2 linked regions of the Homo sapiens genome follow. Each later gene encodes a partner of the first gene's protein in a complex. Each region holds a gene or a part of one and is shown on either strand. Other genes may lie near its edges. The genes, in order: XPO1 and XPO5.

Region 1 (8,078 bases):
GTAGAGACGGGGTTTCACCATGTTGGCCAGGCTGCTCTTTTTTTTTTTTTTTTTTTTGAGATGGAGTCTCATCCTGTTGCCCAGCCTTGAGTGCAGTGGCCTGGTCTCGGCTCACTGCAACCTCTGCCTCCCAGGTTCAAGAGATTCTCCTGCCTCAGCCTCCCGAGCAGCTGGGATCACAGGCACACGTCACCATGCCTCGCTAATTTTTGTATTTTTAGTAGAGACAGGGTTTCACCATGTTGGCCAGGCTGGTCTTGAACTCCTGACCTCGTGATCCTCCTACCTCGGCCTCCCAAAGTGCTGGGATTACAGGCACGAGCTACCACGCCCAGCCTGGCCAGGCTGTTCTCAGACTCCTGGCCTCAAGTGATCTGCCCACCCTGGCTCCCCACAAAGTGCTGGGATTACAGGCATGAGCAACCGCGCAAGGCCTCCTAGAATAATTTCTACATATCTATCAGGCAGATACTAATACACAGACAGACCCATTAGACGGATTGGACCTTTCATTAGGATAATTGAAAAGGGTCCTGCGGTGATTAAGATAAAAGACTTTGTGTTTTGTTTTCTACCCAGTAGGGTGAAGAGGGTGGCACATTTCTTCCTTTAATAAAGGAGGAGAAAATGAAAAGTGATTTATCCTTACTCCTGCCTTTATCCATTACATAATTTCTTTGAAGTTTGTTTTATTTGCCTTTGAGAAATGAAGTGCGATTAACATTTCATGTCTTGTTTTAGATACTGAAACAAGAATGGCCCAAACATTGGCCAACTTTTATCAGTGATATTGTTGGAGCAAGTAGGACCAGCGAAAGTCTCTGTCAAAATAATATGGTGATTCTTAAACTCTTGAGTGAAGAAGTATTTGATTTCTCTAGTGGACAGATAACCCAAGTCAAATCTAAGCATTTAAAAGACAGGCAAGTAATAATTATGTTTTAGAATTTTAAAGTGATTTCTCAAACAATTTCAAGCAGTTTGGATGTAAATTGTAGATATTTTAAGGAACTATGATCAGTAATATGTTAAATTGCTTGTAGTGGTTTTCAACTGCAGATTAAGAAATAGTCCTAGACGGGGCCTAATAATTTACCTCTGAAGGTTGAAAAATGAATTGTTCAAGACACACTTCAGGAATTGTTTTGTATGGTAACTAGTTTAATAGGTTCTAAGCAAATGATTTGTGTCCAAACATACGTATTAGTTATTTTATTTTATTTTGAGACAAGTCTTGCTCTATTGCCTGGGGTGGAGTGCAGCAGCGCAATCTTGGCTCACCACAACCCCCACCTCCTGGATTGAGGTGATTTTCTTGCCTCAGTTTCCCAAATAGCTGTGACTGCAGGTGCATGCCACAGAGCCTGGCCTCAAATCAGTTATTGTCTCTGCTTCTTTTCAGTTCCCCAATTGTTAACAATAGTGTTCTTTTTAAAACAAAACAGAAAACTAGATTTGCCTCTAATAGTAAGCAACTGGTATAAACTATAGTTATACTTCCATTAAGTTTTAAACATTTGTTGTAGTCATTAGGAAATCTTTTTCCCCTTGGGTTGCCCAGGCTGGTCTCAAACAATCCTTCTGCCATGGCCTCCCAAAGTTCTGCGATTACAGGCATGAGCCACTGTACTGGGCTTTAATCATTTTTATTAGTATTATAGATAACTGATACTTATTTCTGTGTCTTCTAAATCTGATATTTTTGTGTGTTTTTTTTTTTAGCATGTGCAATGAATTCTCACAGATATTTCAACTGTGTCAGTTTGTAATGGTAAGTGTTTTTAATTTCATTTTTAAAAACAATAATAGGAAAGCAATTATTTACAAGTGTGTTTTGTTATAGGAAAATTCTCAAAATGCTCCACTTGTACATGCAACCTTGGAAACATTGCTCAGATTTCTGAACTGGATTCCCCTGGGATATATTTTTGAGACCAAATTAATCAGCACATTGATTTATAAGGTACAGTGAATACATTTCAGTTATTTGTCACCGGATAGCCACATATATTCTTTTCACATGTAAAGCTCTCATCTCTGCATTCTAAACCTTATTCAACCTTGTTTCTAACACGAGGACGCTGCTCAGGAGAAATTTCCCATATTCACACCTAGTAAATTATTTAAAGTGAGTTTCAAATCTGATTCTGCCACTTAGACCATGTAATTTTATGAATTCATTTTGAACAATGGATTTGATTATATTGCTTTTAGTTTGAGTAAGTTACAGTGAGGTAAGTCAAGTGCTATTTCTGAAAAATGAAAAGTTCATCTTTTAACTGATAATTTAAAATTGATACCATGTTATGGCTTAAGTTCTATAATGGTTTAGCCTGGGCAAGTTGGTGAAACCGGTCTCTACTAAAAATACAAAACAGCCAGGCGTGGTGGTGTATGCCTGTAGTCCCAGCTACTCGGGAGGCTGTGGCAGGAGAATCTCAAACTCAGGAGGCAGAAGGTGCAGTGAGCCAAGATCGTGCCACTGCACTCCAGCCTGGGCAACAGAGCGAGACCCTGTCTCAAAATAAGTAAAGTTCTACAGTGGTTTATCCAGAGATAATCACTGTTACCAGTTGGTTGTATTATATTTTCAGATGTTTTCTTGACTGATATAATGAATAAATTAAGTATCTAATTGGAACATTATAACTTGACCTCTTCAACTTCGTAGTTTAGTTTGGTAAGATAATATGGATTTATAGTATTTGAATGATCAGTTTATTGCTTAATTATGTAAAAACCTTTCTATTGTCAACAGTCCTACAGAGAACATTCTCAGACATAAGATATTATGCAATTGTCCAAACATTAATTTATTTAAATATTTTAATGTTTAATCACCAGATTATTAGGTATGTTTAATTTTAAGGTTTTAATGCCCCCTGATTTCCAACCCCAGACGATAACTGTTTATCTTCTCAACAATAGAATATATAAGCCAATTTTCCCATATTCTTATTACTCTTAGATACATTGACCATTTCCCAAAATTCTAAGCAATCACAAGTTTTAGGTCCTGTGTAATTACACAGAAAGTATAACATTCCTAAAAGTCATATCACAGATTCTAGGAAAGTTGTTAAGGAGCCTTGTTATTTTAGGACACATCAAAAGAAAGCAGTTTAGGCCGGGCGCTGTGGCTCACGCCTGTAATCCCAGCACTTTGGGAGGTCGAGGTGAGCGGATCACGAGGTCAGGAGATCGAGACCAGCCTGGCCCAACGTGGCAAAACCCTGTCTCTACTAAAAATACAAAAATTAGCCGGGCGTGGTGGCATGCATGTGTAGTCCCAGCTATTTGAGAGGCTGAGGCAGGAGAATCGCTTGAATCCAAGAGGTGAGGTTGCAGTGAGCCGAGATCAAGCCCCTGCATTTCAGCCTGGGCGAGCGAGACTCTGTCTCAAAAAAACAAAAAAAGTTTGCTCCTAAAGCATTTACTGTATACTAGGTAGGCAATAAAATTCCCTCTCAGTATATCTGCATGATAAAATATGTTCATTCACTTGGCCTGTTTTTGACATCTACCCCTATATTTAATTGTTAAAGCCTTTTTCCTTTTAATTGTGAATTTTAAGTAAAGTGTGTATCAGGCCAATTAATTTTATGGTTCCCTCCCCCCTTTTAAATAGTTCCTGAATGTTCCAATGTTTCGAAATGTCTCTCTGAAGTGCCTCACTGAGATTGCTGGTGTGAGTGTAAGCCAATATGAAGAACAATTTGTAACACTATTTACTCTGACAATGATGCAACTAAAGCAGGTAATATAATACTATCTTGAAAATTGGCTGAATAATTTTAGTGCCTTAGAAAATACCAAATTCCAAATGAGTTATTTTAGAACGACGTATCAAAGATAAGCCATAATCTTTTGTTTATTACATAAAATTTGTAGTAAGCTACAAATTTTTATGATGTTTCCAAAAATTTCTTAAAATTCAGGTTTGGGGTGTGTTGTGGTAATTTATTTCTGCACACTTTAGGAGCTTGGTCTTTTGGGAGATACCTGACCAGACAGTGGGAAACCTGGGACTTGTTCCTAACATTGTGTCTGAAGGAATTCTTTTCAGCCCTAGTTTGATTGGTTATCTATTAAATGATCTAGAAGGTTATTCATAATACTGTGTTCATGGCCAGGCATGGTGGTTAATACTGTAATCCCAGAACTTTGGGAGGCCAGAATGGGAGGACCAGTTGATGCCAGGAGTTCGAGACCAGCCAGGACAACATAACCAGACCATACCTACGAAAGATTTAAAAAATAGCTAGCTGTGGTGTTGCACACCTGTAGTTCCAGCTACTCTGGAGGCTGAGGCAATAGGATCGCTTGAGCCTATTAATACAAAGTTAAAATGAGCTATGGTCACACTATTGCACTCCAGCCTGGATGACAGGGTAAATCCCTGTCTCTTTTAAAAAACAAGGAAAGATAGATTACTATGTATGTTTGTGATCTGAATGAATGAATTGATTATTTTTACATTTTTCAATGTCAGTGAGAAATACTAGAAAAATTTAAAGGCTGTGATAGCGGCCTTTAATTTATTTGAGAAGAGTCAAAATCTAAGTCCTAGAGATATAAGAATAGGTATACTGGACCTAGGAGTTCTGTATGTGGTTTAATATTAGCAAAAGGGTGTTGGGATATTAGGGCTTAAAAATAATAGTGTTGGCTGAGTGCAATAGCTCAGACCTTTAATCCCAGCACTTTGGGAGGCTAAGGTGGGAGGATTGCTTGAGCCAGGAGTTTGAGACCAGCCTGGACAACATAACAAGATACCGTCTCTACAAAAATGTTAAAAATAAGCTTAGTGCGATGGCACATACCTGTGGTTCCAGCTACTCGGGAGGGGCTGAGGAGGACTGATTGGGCCTAGGAGGTGGAGGCTGCAGTGAGCTTTGGTCATACCACTGCACTCCAGCCTGGACAGAGTGATACCTTGTCTCAAAAAAATAATAATAAAATATTAAGTGTCTTTAGTTGTTTTATAAAATGCGAACTGATCGTCCCTTTTAAAATTTGCAGATGCTTCCTTTAAATACCAATATTCGACTTGCGTACTCAAATGGAAAAGATGATGAACAGAACTTCATTCAAAATCTCAGTTTGTTTCTCTGCACCTTTCTTAAGGAACATGATCAACTTATAGAAAAAAGATTAAATCTCAGGGAAACTCTTATGGAGGTAAGATATGTGGAGCTTTTGCTCCTAAAATTCTGCTCTGCCTACTAATAACTCTTAAAAGTGCCTTTTTCTAAAATGTATGTACCTTTTGAGATTTCTTATTACTTAATATTTGATCAGTACATTATATATATTCTCAATTCTGAATTACAGTTATAAGCCCAGTTTTCTGATTTTATGTTCTCCATAAAGCTAGGACTAAAAATTTATAATCAAAATTAAATTACTAATTATTATATCATTTCTAAGGTTAAAATTTCAAAGACCTTATTTTAAAATTTCAGTTTTAATTCAAATAACATGCATTTGTTCATTTAAAGATATACAATTCATCGTGTAATCCCAGCACTTTGGGAGGCGGAGGTGGGTGGATCACTTGAGGCAGGAGTTCGAGACCAGCCTGGCCTACATCGTGAATCTCTGTCTCTATTAAAAATACAAAAAAATTAGCTGTGCGTGGTGTCACATGACTGTAATCCCAGCTCCTCAGGAGGCTGAAGCACAGGAATTGCTTTAGCCCAGTAGGCTGAGGTTGCAGTGAGCCAAGATCACAGTACTGCACTCCAGCCTGAGTGACAGAGCAAGACTCTGTCTGAAGGAAGAAAATGTCTCTCTCTCTCTCTTTATATATATATATAAACTTAAGTATATATATATATAAACATAAGTATATATATATATACACACACACACACAATTCAGTGGCATATTAGTATATATACAATGTTATACAACCATTAATACCTAGATCCAAAACATTTTCATCACCCGAAGGTGACCCTTTACCCCTAAAACAGTCACTTTCTCCTTTGTTCTCTCCCCAACTTCTGGCAACCATTATTTTGGTTTCTGTCTCTGTAGATATATCTATTCTGATTATACCATATAAAGGGAATCATGCATGTGACCTTTTGTGTCTGGTTTCTTTTATTTGGTGTTGTGTTTTCAATGTTCTTCCATGTTGTAACCTGTATCAATACCTCACTTTTTATCATGTCTGAAGAATATTCTCATTGTATGAATATTCAGTATTTTGTTTGTTCTCTCCTCTGTGATGGTACATTTGGGTTGTGATACCACTTATTGGCACCCAAGGCCTTTTAAATAAATGTCGTTCCATTAGGAGACATGATAAAAATACATATTGATCAACTACTATGTGAGAGATTTTTGAAGTGCTTTAGGGCATGTCAGAAGAAGCAGAGTTACTCCAGAGTTTGCTGTCTATTTGATAAGTATTGAAATCTGAGTTGTGATGAATAAAACATGAATTTTTATTTTCCCTTAAGGTGTAACAAGTGAAAAGCAATTTGAAGTTGGTAATGTTTAAGAATTATTTTAACAGTTTTGGTCTTCTGTGTAGGCCCTTCATTATATGTTGTTGGTATCTGAAGTAGAAGAAACTGAAATCTTTAAAATTTGTCTTGAATACTGGAATCATTTGGCTGCTGAACTCTATAGAGAGAGTCCATTCTCTACATCTGCCTCTCCGTTGCTTTCTGGAAGTCAACATTTTGATGTTCCTCCCAGGAGACAGCTATATTTGCCCATGTTATTCAAGGTAACAGAGCGGTTGGTTGAGTGTTCTTCCTGTTGCATACTGTGGTTTTGAGGTCTGAATCCAAATACTTCTAATCTGTGTAAATAAATTAGCTATAAAAAGAGAACCCAACAACTTCTCCATGAGTGTGGAAAACTAGAACATGAAAGGAGTTGAGTCTAGAACCTTGATTCTCAAGAGTGTGGTCCTTCTCTCAGTATCAACATTGGTTGTGATTTCGTTAGGCAAATTCATTGGCCACCTGCCAATCTACTAAACCAGAGTCTAGGAATGAGACACAGGAAACTCCTGTAACAGAAGTTGGTTAAAAAAATCACATTAAAACACACTTAAATAATTATAAAGCCATTTTTGTAGAATTACAGTGAAAAAAAATTTTTTCTTTTGGAGACAGGGTCTTGCTCTGTGGCTCAGGTTGGAGTGCAGTGGCGTGGTCATAGCTCACTACAATCTTGAACTCCTAGACTAAAGCAATTCTCTTGTGTCAGCCTCCCAAGTAATTGGTTGCAGGCACACACCACCATGCCTAGCAAATTTTAAATTTTTTAGTTTTACTTCATTTATATTTACATAGTTTTTTCTGTTGTGCTTTAAGCCCCAGTATTTTTATTGTTTTAGAGATTGGGTGTCATTTTGTGTTGCTCAAGCTGCTCTCAAATTCCTGGCCACAACAGTTCTTTTTGCCTCGGCCCTCCGGAATAGTTGGAATTATAGGCATGAATCCCTACACATGGCTGGCTTGTGGTTTTTTTGGTTTTGTTTGTTTTTAACTAAGCTTCTACACTAATGATTTCAGTGATCTAACGATTTTTTTCTTGATTGATATATTGTTGAGTATAGGTCCGTTTATTAATGGTTAGTCGAATGGCTAAACCAGAGGAAGTATTGGTTGTAGAGAATGATCAAGGAGAAGTTGTGAGAGAATTCATGAAGGATACAGATTCCATAAATTTGTATAAGAATATGAGGGAAACATTGGGTAAGTTAATAAATACTGTTAATCTTTACCTTTATAAATCTATTCTGGGGTGGAAATACATTTTAGGAAATGTACTTGTAGTTTCTAAATATTTTCTAAATGTATTGTTACTCATCAATAAAATTCTGCTCATTATTTGCATTTGAAACCATGTTTTTCTTTGTAGTTTATCTTACTCATCTGGATTATGTAGATACAGAAAGAATAATGACAGAGAAGCTTCACAATCAAGTGAATGGTACAGAGTGGTCATGGAAAAATTTGAATACATTGTGTTGGGCAATAGGCTCCATTAGTGGAGCAATGCATGAAGAGGACGAAAAACGATTTCTTGTTACTGTTATAAAGGTATGCAAG
Region 2 (8,626 bases), on another chromosome or scaffold:
AGCTCCATGACACTGTTCTTCAGATACACCTTCTCCAATCGAGACATGCCGTTCCACCGAAACCTGACCACCAAAATGCATAAAGTCAATAGAACCACTTTAGAAGTCTTGTCTTTACAAGAGAATAGCATGGATTTCTACATTTGATTACACTGGAGATTTCATTAAGAAATTATACTTTTGATTTTGTACCTGTCAATGAATGGGCAAAAATGATCTACATTTAACCAAAATACTAACACAAAAATTCTTGGGAAAAGGTTTTATATATGCAGTGGTCCATTAACTGGAATCCGCACAAGATTTGTACCACACGTCAGCTTTGCCTCATGATTTTATTGATGGGCCAAAAGTGAATATACATCTAGGTCAACTGCAACAATGTACTTGCTTTTCAGAAAATGCAGTTTTGACATCAGTCATTTTCTGTGCTGGCTTACAAAACAATTCTGGAAAAACTATGGCTAAGTCTTAAAGGCTACCTCTTCTGATAGGTGTTGAGGGTAGGACAATCAAGTTAGGATGGGTTTTCAGTTATTCTCATACAATCCTGCTTTGGATGTACCACCCAGAGAAGGCACACAAACTCAGAAAGACAGAGAGAAAAAAGAAAGCCACAGTGCCTAATCAGAGATTCATTGACCTATACATTGCATTACTCTAAAAAGGCTTCGAGGGCTAATGACATATAGTCAGAGCTCAGTAAGTATTGGCTAAATGGCAGGTAATATTTGTTGAATGGGTAATATGTACCACACACTTTACATGGATGAAGAAACTGAAGAAAAGAAAGGTTAAATCTTGAATGAGAGCTCCTGTGAGGTTCTGATAACATCTAGGGGATCATTCCTCTCTTCTTGGAGATTGCTCTTCTCTACTCACCTAAACAGCATCTCTATAGGTTATATAAGATATAAAGATCTGTTCTCTCAGACTTCAGTGGTAATGTCCAAGAGCTCCTTACTTGACAACGTGTTCCAGGATCTGAAGGCCAAAATGTCTGACGATGGCAACTTGTGTTTTCTCAGCCAACCTCAAGCCACAGGGGACACAGATAGGACACTTTTCTTTAAACTCCTCACAAAACTGAAAGAAGAAAAGTTAGTGTTTCCTTTCGAGGGCTGAGAGAATAGGGACTAAAAGAATTTCATCTTAAGAAACTCCAACCAGGGCCGGGTGCGGTGGCTCACACCTGTCCCAGCACTCTGGGAGGCTGAGATGGGTGGACTACTTGAGTCTAGGAGTCTGAGACTAGCCTAGGCAACATGGCGAAACCCCATCTCTATTAAATATATATATATATATATATTTTTTTTTTTTTTTTTTGAGACGGAGTCTCACTCTGTCGCCCAGGCTGGAATGCAATGGCATGATCTCGGCTCACTGCAACCTCTGCTTCCCAGGTTCAAGCAGTTCTCCTGCCTCAGCCTCCTGAGCCCATGTAGCTGGGACTACAAGTGCACGCCACCACACCCAGCTAATTTTTGTATTTTTAGTAGAAACAAGGTTTCATCATGTTGACCAGGCTGGTCTTGAACTCCTGACCTCAGGTGACCCACCTGCCTTGGCCTCCCAAAGTGCTGGGATTACAGGCGTGAGCCACTGTGCCCGGCCCACTAAAAATATTTTTTTAAATTAGCCGGGCATGGTGGCAGGTGCCTGTAATCCCAGCTACTCAGGAGGCTGAAGTGGTAGGAGAATCACTTGAGCTCGAGAAATCAAGGCTGAAGTGAGCCGAGATCTCACCACTGCACGCCAGCCTGGACAACCAGAGTGAGACCCTACTCAAAAAGAAACTCCAACCTAAGCTATATGTTTAAAGTTGCAAAACCTAGATCAATATTATGTGGATCTCCAAGCACAGTTGCTTTAAAAATATATATTTAATATAAAAATAAAAATATAAAATATATAAAAGTTACACATATATAACATTTCCTCCAAGTGGTGTTCACTCTATTTTATGTGTATATATTATATATATATTATGAATAAAGAACTGATAAACATTCCTTCCAGCGTGATGGTTCCAGATTTTTTCCATGCTACGGCCAACAGTAGCCCTACTAGTGTTGGAAAAAAATGGACACAAAGGAATAAGAAATTATTTGTTAGAGACATCCCCCTGACGTACATAGGGGTGAAATAACAATTTCTAGGGTTTCTTTTAAAAACCTTCGAGGCAGGGAGAGAGGATAGGCGGTGGAAAAAGTAAATGCGGTAAAATCTTTGATTGCTGAATTTAGGTGACAGGAACATGCAGAATCACTGTCGTATTCTCTCCACTTTTGTGTCTATTTTAAATATTAATAATAAAAACCAAACTAATGGAACCCAATTGTTTCTGATTCCAAACCCTGTGGCAGACATCTACATATTGTAACATTTCCTCCAAGTGGTGGTCACTCTCTTTTTTGAAGTTAACATCACTTTAAAAATGTACAGCACAAGTATTTTCTCCTAAATGGCCATTTCTCACAGCCCACACACGTTGTTTTATGGGCAAGTAAGCTTGAATTGTATTAACACCCCCAAACTGCAACATAAGTCAGTCCCAAGAGCAGAGCATTCGGGTCTCACGCAAACTACTTTCAGGAAACCAAAGTGCCCTTGTTAAAATGCAAAGTAAGTGGTAGAAGTTATCTTTGCGCAAAATAGCCTAAAAATATTACACTCAAAAACATGGGAGAAGTAGGGGTGCGAGAATTTCCCCGGAAAATGTCCAAGACACAAACGAAAGTTAGCGAGATGTTAAAGCATATAAGCATAAGGGTACCAGAGGGGCTGGAGCTCGGTCAGGGCCAGGGGAGTGGGCCAGCAGGAAAACGTTTAGTGCAGGAGAGACCATAAAGAACGAAGCTGGTGTTGGGGGCGGGATCTACACGTGCGCCTCGGGAAGGCGAGGGGATGTCGGGCTTGGGGAATGAAAATGGGCGAGGGTCATGTTGCGGACAAGAGTGCACAGAAGCGAGGAAAGGGGGAGGAGAGGGCTGTGGGAAGCTGCGGCGAGATGAGAAGCAGCATAGGGACCGGAGTGTCCCAGGCAAAGGACAGGAGCGGCGAGTAGAGAAGGCGGCGATTTGGGAGAGGCGCGGAGGGCCGCGAGGGGAAGGTCCCGGGGAGTTGGGAAAGGAGGTCCAGGGGCCGCGTGGGCGGGAGACTACCCCAGTTACAGGCGGCGCCGGAGCTGCTGGGGCTGGGAGAGGGTGTCGGGACCGGCCCAGGACGCCAGGACCCCAGCTACCTTGAGGGCTTCCAGCCGGTAGCGCTGGGTGGAGTTGGGGTCCATCATGACCGTCACCGCTTTCACCAGCTGCTCGCACAGCGCGTTTACTTGATCCATCGCCATGCCTAGCGCCACGCGCCGAGAGCGCACACCACTGCAGTCCCGGGACCACGAGGCACGACAGCTCCCTCGGCGAGACCACCCGTTGGTACCGGGCCGCGGCGGGCGGCGGGGGTGGGAAGCTGGAGGAGGAGCGTTAGCAGCAACTCGCGCTGGGAAGAAGCCGGCGCTGCGCACGCGCCCGGCCCGCCACTGCGCACGCGCCCGCGGAAGTGGCGGCTCCCGTGTGCAGGTTGAGCCTAGGTGGGCGGGGCGGGAGGCGGAAGGGCCGCGGTGCGCAGCCGCGTCAACGGCCCTTCGCAGCGGGCGCGCTGTCAGACCTCAGTCTGGCGGCTGCATTGCTGGGCGCGCCGCTCTCGTCTGATCCCTGCTGGGGACGGTTGCCCGGGCAGGATCCTTTACGATCCCTTCTCGGTTTCTCCGTCGTCACAGGGAATAAATCTCGCTCGAAACTCACTGGACCGCTCCTAGAAAGGCGAAAAGATATTCAGGAGCCCTTCCATTTTCCTTCCAGTAGGCACCGAACCCAGCATTTTCGGCAACCGCTGCTGGCAGTTTTGCCAGGTGTTTGTTACCTTGGTAAGAAAATTTAGAACCGTTCGCTGTCACTGTGTTCAGACTTTCTATGTTGCCTTGGCTATTGGTTTTATAATGTAGCAGTGACTGGGCCAAGGTTGCGTGAAATATAAATCATGCTAACAGGGATAAGGCCCTGGTACTGTCTTCTAAGATTTTTCTTGTAGAAAAAAGTATGTTTTTCCCTGTAGTTGTTAAACCTCTCTCTTGGAATTACTTTCCTGGATGTATTATTACCTGGTGGGCACTAAACTTGTTTTGTGCGGATTGGGGTAACTCGAGATGTTTAAAGGGAATAATTGCAATCAGTGAAGGTTTGTGCAGTTTTGATAATTGGCCAAGTGCTATGTATAAGGTTTCAAAGTAGTGTAATCCTTATCCAAAAGCATGGCTTGGGCAGAAAGTCTTCTTCATTTTCCATCTTTATAAAGCTCTTGGCCGGGCGCGGTGGCTCACGCCTGTAATCCCAGCACTTTGGGAGGCGGAGGCGGGCGGATCACCTGAGGTCAGGAGTTCGAGACCAGCCTCACCAACATGGTGAAACCCCGTTTCTACTAAACATACAAAAATTATGTTTGCATTTTTAGTATTTTTATACAGGCGTGGCGGTGCGCGCCTGTAATCCCAGCTACTCGGGAGGCTGAGGTGGGAGAATCGCTTGAACCCGGGAGGCGGAGGTTCAGTGAGCCGAGATCGCGCCTTTGCACTCCAGCCTGGGCGACAGAGCGAAACTCCGTCTCAAAAATAAATAAATAAAGCTCTTGCTTTCTCCAGTAAATACATAAACGGAAAACCTCAACAGCTTTATTATCTGTTAAAGTCTGCATGTCTGTTTTTGTGATTGTGTGCTTAGTAAATTGTGTGCTGAACATAAATCACTGCTTCCTATTCTTGCTCCACTTCTGGTATTTGGATCTAATATGGTGCTTAGCCTGTGTTTTTTTGTGTTACAATACTATTTGTTGGCTCAGTCTGTTCCAGTACTACTGAAAAGCCACTTCAAAGTAGAGGGACTTCTGGCATGTTATAGTTTTAACTTGTAAATGTTTAAAGTATCACATTCTGCCTGTTTTAGGCGTGGTCGATTGGAATTTATAAGGAATTAATGCTTTGACTGCTCTGATTTTAATTATTTTTCTTTCCACTCACCTTCCTGCTTTGCAGTTGTAAGACGTTTTTTTTTTCAAGGTGAATGTTAGTTTTTGAAAAACTTTTTTTAGAATACAGTTGGGTGCTCACTCAACTGTATAACCTGTGTTTCTCGTATTTAAATCATGGATTGCTGGTGTTTCGATTGTCTTATTTAGGTCTTGGCTCCCAAACTGCTGCATATTGGAATTACCTGGAGAGCTTTTAAAAATCCCCGGCCTGGCGCGGTGGCACACGCCTGTAATCCCAGCACTTTGGGAGGCCGAGGCGGGCGGATCACGAGGTCAGGAGATCGAGACCATCCTGGCTAACACGGTGAAACCCCGTCTCTACTAAAAATACAAAAAATTAGCCGGGCGGGGTGGCACGCGCCTGTAGTCCCAGCTAATGGGGATGAGGCAGAGGAATCACTTGAAACCGGGAGATGGAGGTTGCAGTGAGCTGAGATCTCACCACTGCACTTCAGCCTGGGTGACAGACGGAGACTCTGTCTAGGAAAAAAAAAAATCCCCATGCTAGGCCGAGCGCGATGGCTCACGCCTGTAATCCCAGCACTTTGGGAGGCCGAGGTGGGTGGATCGCCTAAGGTCAGGAGTTAGAGACTAGCCTGGCCAACATGGTGAAACCCAGTCTCTACTCGAAATACAAAAATTAGCCGGGCGTGGTGGCGTGCGCCTGTAATCCCAGCTACTCAGGAGGCTGAGGCAGGAGAATCGCTTGAACCCGGGAGGCGTAGGTTGCAGTGAGCCGAGACTGTGCCATTGCACTCCAGCCTGCGCAACGAGAACGAAACTCTAACTCAAAAACAACAACAACAACAAAAAACTCATGCCCAGGTCATACCCATACCAATTAAGTTAGTATATATAGTTGTGGAAGTCAAATATCAGTAGTATTTAAAGCAGCCTGGCGGGGGGACAAGAGCGAGACTTTGTCTCAAAAAAAAAAAAGTGTCATGGTCATGAAAAACAAGGAACAACCGAGGAAATGCCACAGATTGGGGGGCAGTAAAGTATGTAGTTAATAATATGCCAATGTTCATTTTTAAATTTTGGTAATTGTGTTAAGTAAGATGTTAACATCAGGAAACTGGGAGTAGGAGAACTCTACCATTTTTGCGATTTTCTGTAAGTCTAAAAGTATTTCAGAGTAAAAGGTTGACATTTTTCATGAATGCTATGATGTTATATATTATTTTCTCCTTCTCTTTTCTCTGAATTTATACTTGAGATTTGTCTGTCAACTGATTCCGTATTGGTTCTCTTCCCCTGGTGATGTGCATTTTAATTTCCATTTCCCCATGACTAATGATGGTGAGCCTATTTTTATGTGCCAATTGGCTATGTTTGTATTTTGTGGTTAGTTCTTTTAAGGATAAGTATTTTTAAAGCTTTTAATACCTATTGCCTTCATAAAATTGTACTAATTTATCCTTATGCCAGCAGTACAGGTTGAGTATCTGTGATATTGTGATATATGTATGTTAGTTTTTGTCCACGGTTCCTAGCTCATAACTCCCCTAGCTTTCGTTATAATGTTGGAGCTCTTGAAGCAAGCCTCAGAAAACAGAATCTCTCTCTGGCCTTCTGCCCTCCTTTCACCTGCCCAAAGCAGGACTCTAATCTTCCCCTGCCTTTCTGATTATGGGTCATAAGACTTTCATTTCAGAAGAGTTCCTACCCCATACCCTGGAGAAAGGAATGCTACCCAGAGAGGCCAGGAAGAATCTGGACAGGCCTTGCTGGGTTTCCCCAGTCTATTAGTATTAGATCATATCTTTTTTGTCCAGTCACATTTCTACACGGATGTCAGTCATGCCTATCCAATGAAGTTTCCATAAAAGGCCCAAGAGGAGAGGGTTCGAAGAGCTGCTGGATAGGAGCAAAAGGAAGTTCCTGGAGAGTGGTGTTCCCAGGGAGGGCATGCCTTGCCATGTGTATCTCTTCATCTGTATATCCTTTATAATAAACTAGTAAATTTGATTACCTGAGTTCTGTGAGCCACTCTGGCAAATTAACTGAACCCAAAGAGGGGCTCATGAGATTCCCAATTTATATCCAGTCAGTTAGAAGCACAGGTAAAACAACCTGTGGCTTGTGATTGGCATCAGAAGTAGGGGGCAGTCTTGTGGGACTGAGCCATCAACCTGTGAGATCTGACGCTTTCTCCAGGTAGATAATGTCAGACTCGAATTGGAGGATACCCACTTGGTGTCTGCTGCAGAATTGATTGCTTGTTTGTTGGTGGGGAGAAATCCTCACACATTTGGTCACAGAAGTCTACCTTATTGATTGTTGTTGAGTGAAAGAATCTTTTTTTTTTTTTTTTAAATTTATTTTTTTATTGATAATTCTTGGGTGTTTCTCACAGAGGGGGATTTGGCAGGGTCATGGGACAATAGTGGAGGGAAGGTCAGCAGATAAACAAGTGAACAAAGGTCTCTGGTTTTCCTAGGCAGAGGACCCTGCGGCCTTCCGCAGTGTTTGTGTCCCTGATTACTTGAGATCAGGGATTGGTGATGACTCTTAACGAGCATGCTGCCTTCAAGCATCTGTTTAACAAAGCACATCTTACACCGCCCTTAATCCATTTAACCCTGAGTGGACACAGCACATGTTTCAGAGAGCACAGGGTTGGGGGTAAGGTCACAGATCAACAGGATCCCAAGGCAGAGGAATTTTTCTTAGTGCAGAACAAAATGAAAAGTCTCCCATGTCTACTTCTTTCTACACAGACACGGCAACCATCCGATTTCTCAATCTTTTCCCCACCTTTCCCGCCTTTCTATTCCACAAAGCCGCCATTGTCATCATGGCCCGTTCTCAATGAGCTGTTGGGCACACCTCCCAGACGGGGTGGTGGCCGGGCAGAGGGGCTCCTCACTTCCCAGTAGGGGCGGCCGGGCAGAGGCGCCCCTCACCTCCCGGACGGGGCGGCTGGCCGGGCGGGGGGCTGACCCCCCAACCTCCCTCCCGGACGGGGCGGCTGGCCGGGCAGAGGGGCTCCTCACTTCCCAGTAGGGGCGGCCGGGCAGAGGCGCCCCTCACCTCCCGGACGGGGCGGCTGGCCGGGCAGGGGGGCTGACCCCCCCACCTCCCTCCCGGACTGGGCGGCTGGCCGGGCGGGGGGCCGACACCCCCACCTCCCTCCCGGACGGGGCGGCTGGCCGGGCGGGGGGCCGACCCCCCCACCTCCCTCCCGGACTGGGCGGCTGGCCGGGCAGAGGGGCTCCTCACTTCCCAGTAGGGGCGGCCGGGCAGAGGCGCCCCTCACCTCCCAGACGGGGCGGCTGGCCGGGCGGAGGGCTGACCCCCCCACCTCCCTCCCGGACGGCACGGCTGGCCAGGCGGGGGGCTGACCCCCCCACCTCCCTCCCGGATGGGGCGGCTGGCCGGGCGGGGGGCTGACCCCCCCCCACCTCCCTCCCGGACGGGGTGGCTGCCGGGCGGAGACGCTCCTCACTTCCCAGATGGGGTGGCTGCCGGGCGGAGAGGCTCCTCACTTCTCAGACGGGGCAGCTGCCGGGCGGAGGGGCTCCTCACTTCTCAGACGGGG

Evidence for each region.
Region 2: XPO1 (region 1) and XPO5 share a complex: the UniProt entries of both Homo sapiens proteins name them as parts of the nuclear export receptor complex.

The regions. Positions count from the first base shown.
Region 1 is NC_000002.12:61,492,558-61,500,635, reverse strand, and holds part of XPO1 (exportin-1), read left to right. Parts: intron 1-741; coding exon 742-923; intron 924-1,722; coding exon 1,723-1,771; intron 1,772-1,843; coding exon 1,844-1,963; intron 1,964-3,628; coding exon 3,629-3,757; intron 3,758-5,022; coding exon 5,023-5,181; intron 5,182-6,544; coding exon 6,545-6,742; intron 6,743-7,582; coding exon 7,583-7,721; intron 7,722-7,887; coding exon 7,888-8,069; intron 8,070-8,078. UniProt on the Homo sapiens protein: Mediates the nuclear export of cellular proteins (cargos) bearing a leucine-rich nuclear export signal (NES) and of RNAs.
Region 2 is NC_000006.12:43,572,516-43,581,141, forward strand, and holds the start of XPO5 (exportin-5), read right to left. Parts: upstream 3,524-8,626; 5' UTR 3,350-3,523; coding exon 3,245-3,349; intron 1,087-3,244; coding exon 965-1,086; intron 64-964; coding exon 1-63. UniProt on the Homo sapiens protein: Mediates the nuclear export of proteins bearing a double-stranded RNA binding domain (dsRBD) and double-stranded RNAs (cargos). XPO5 in the nucleus binds cooperatively to the RNA and to the GTPase Ran in its active GTP-bound form.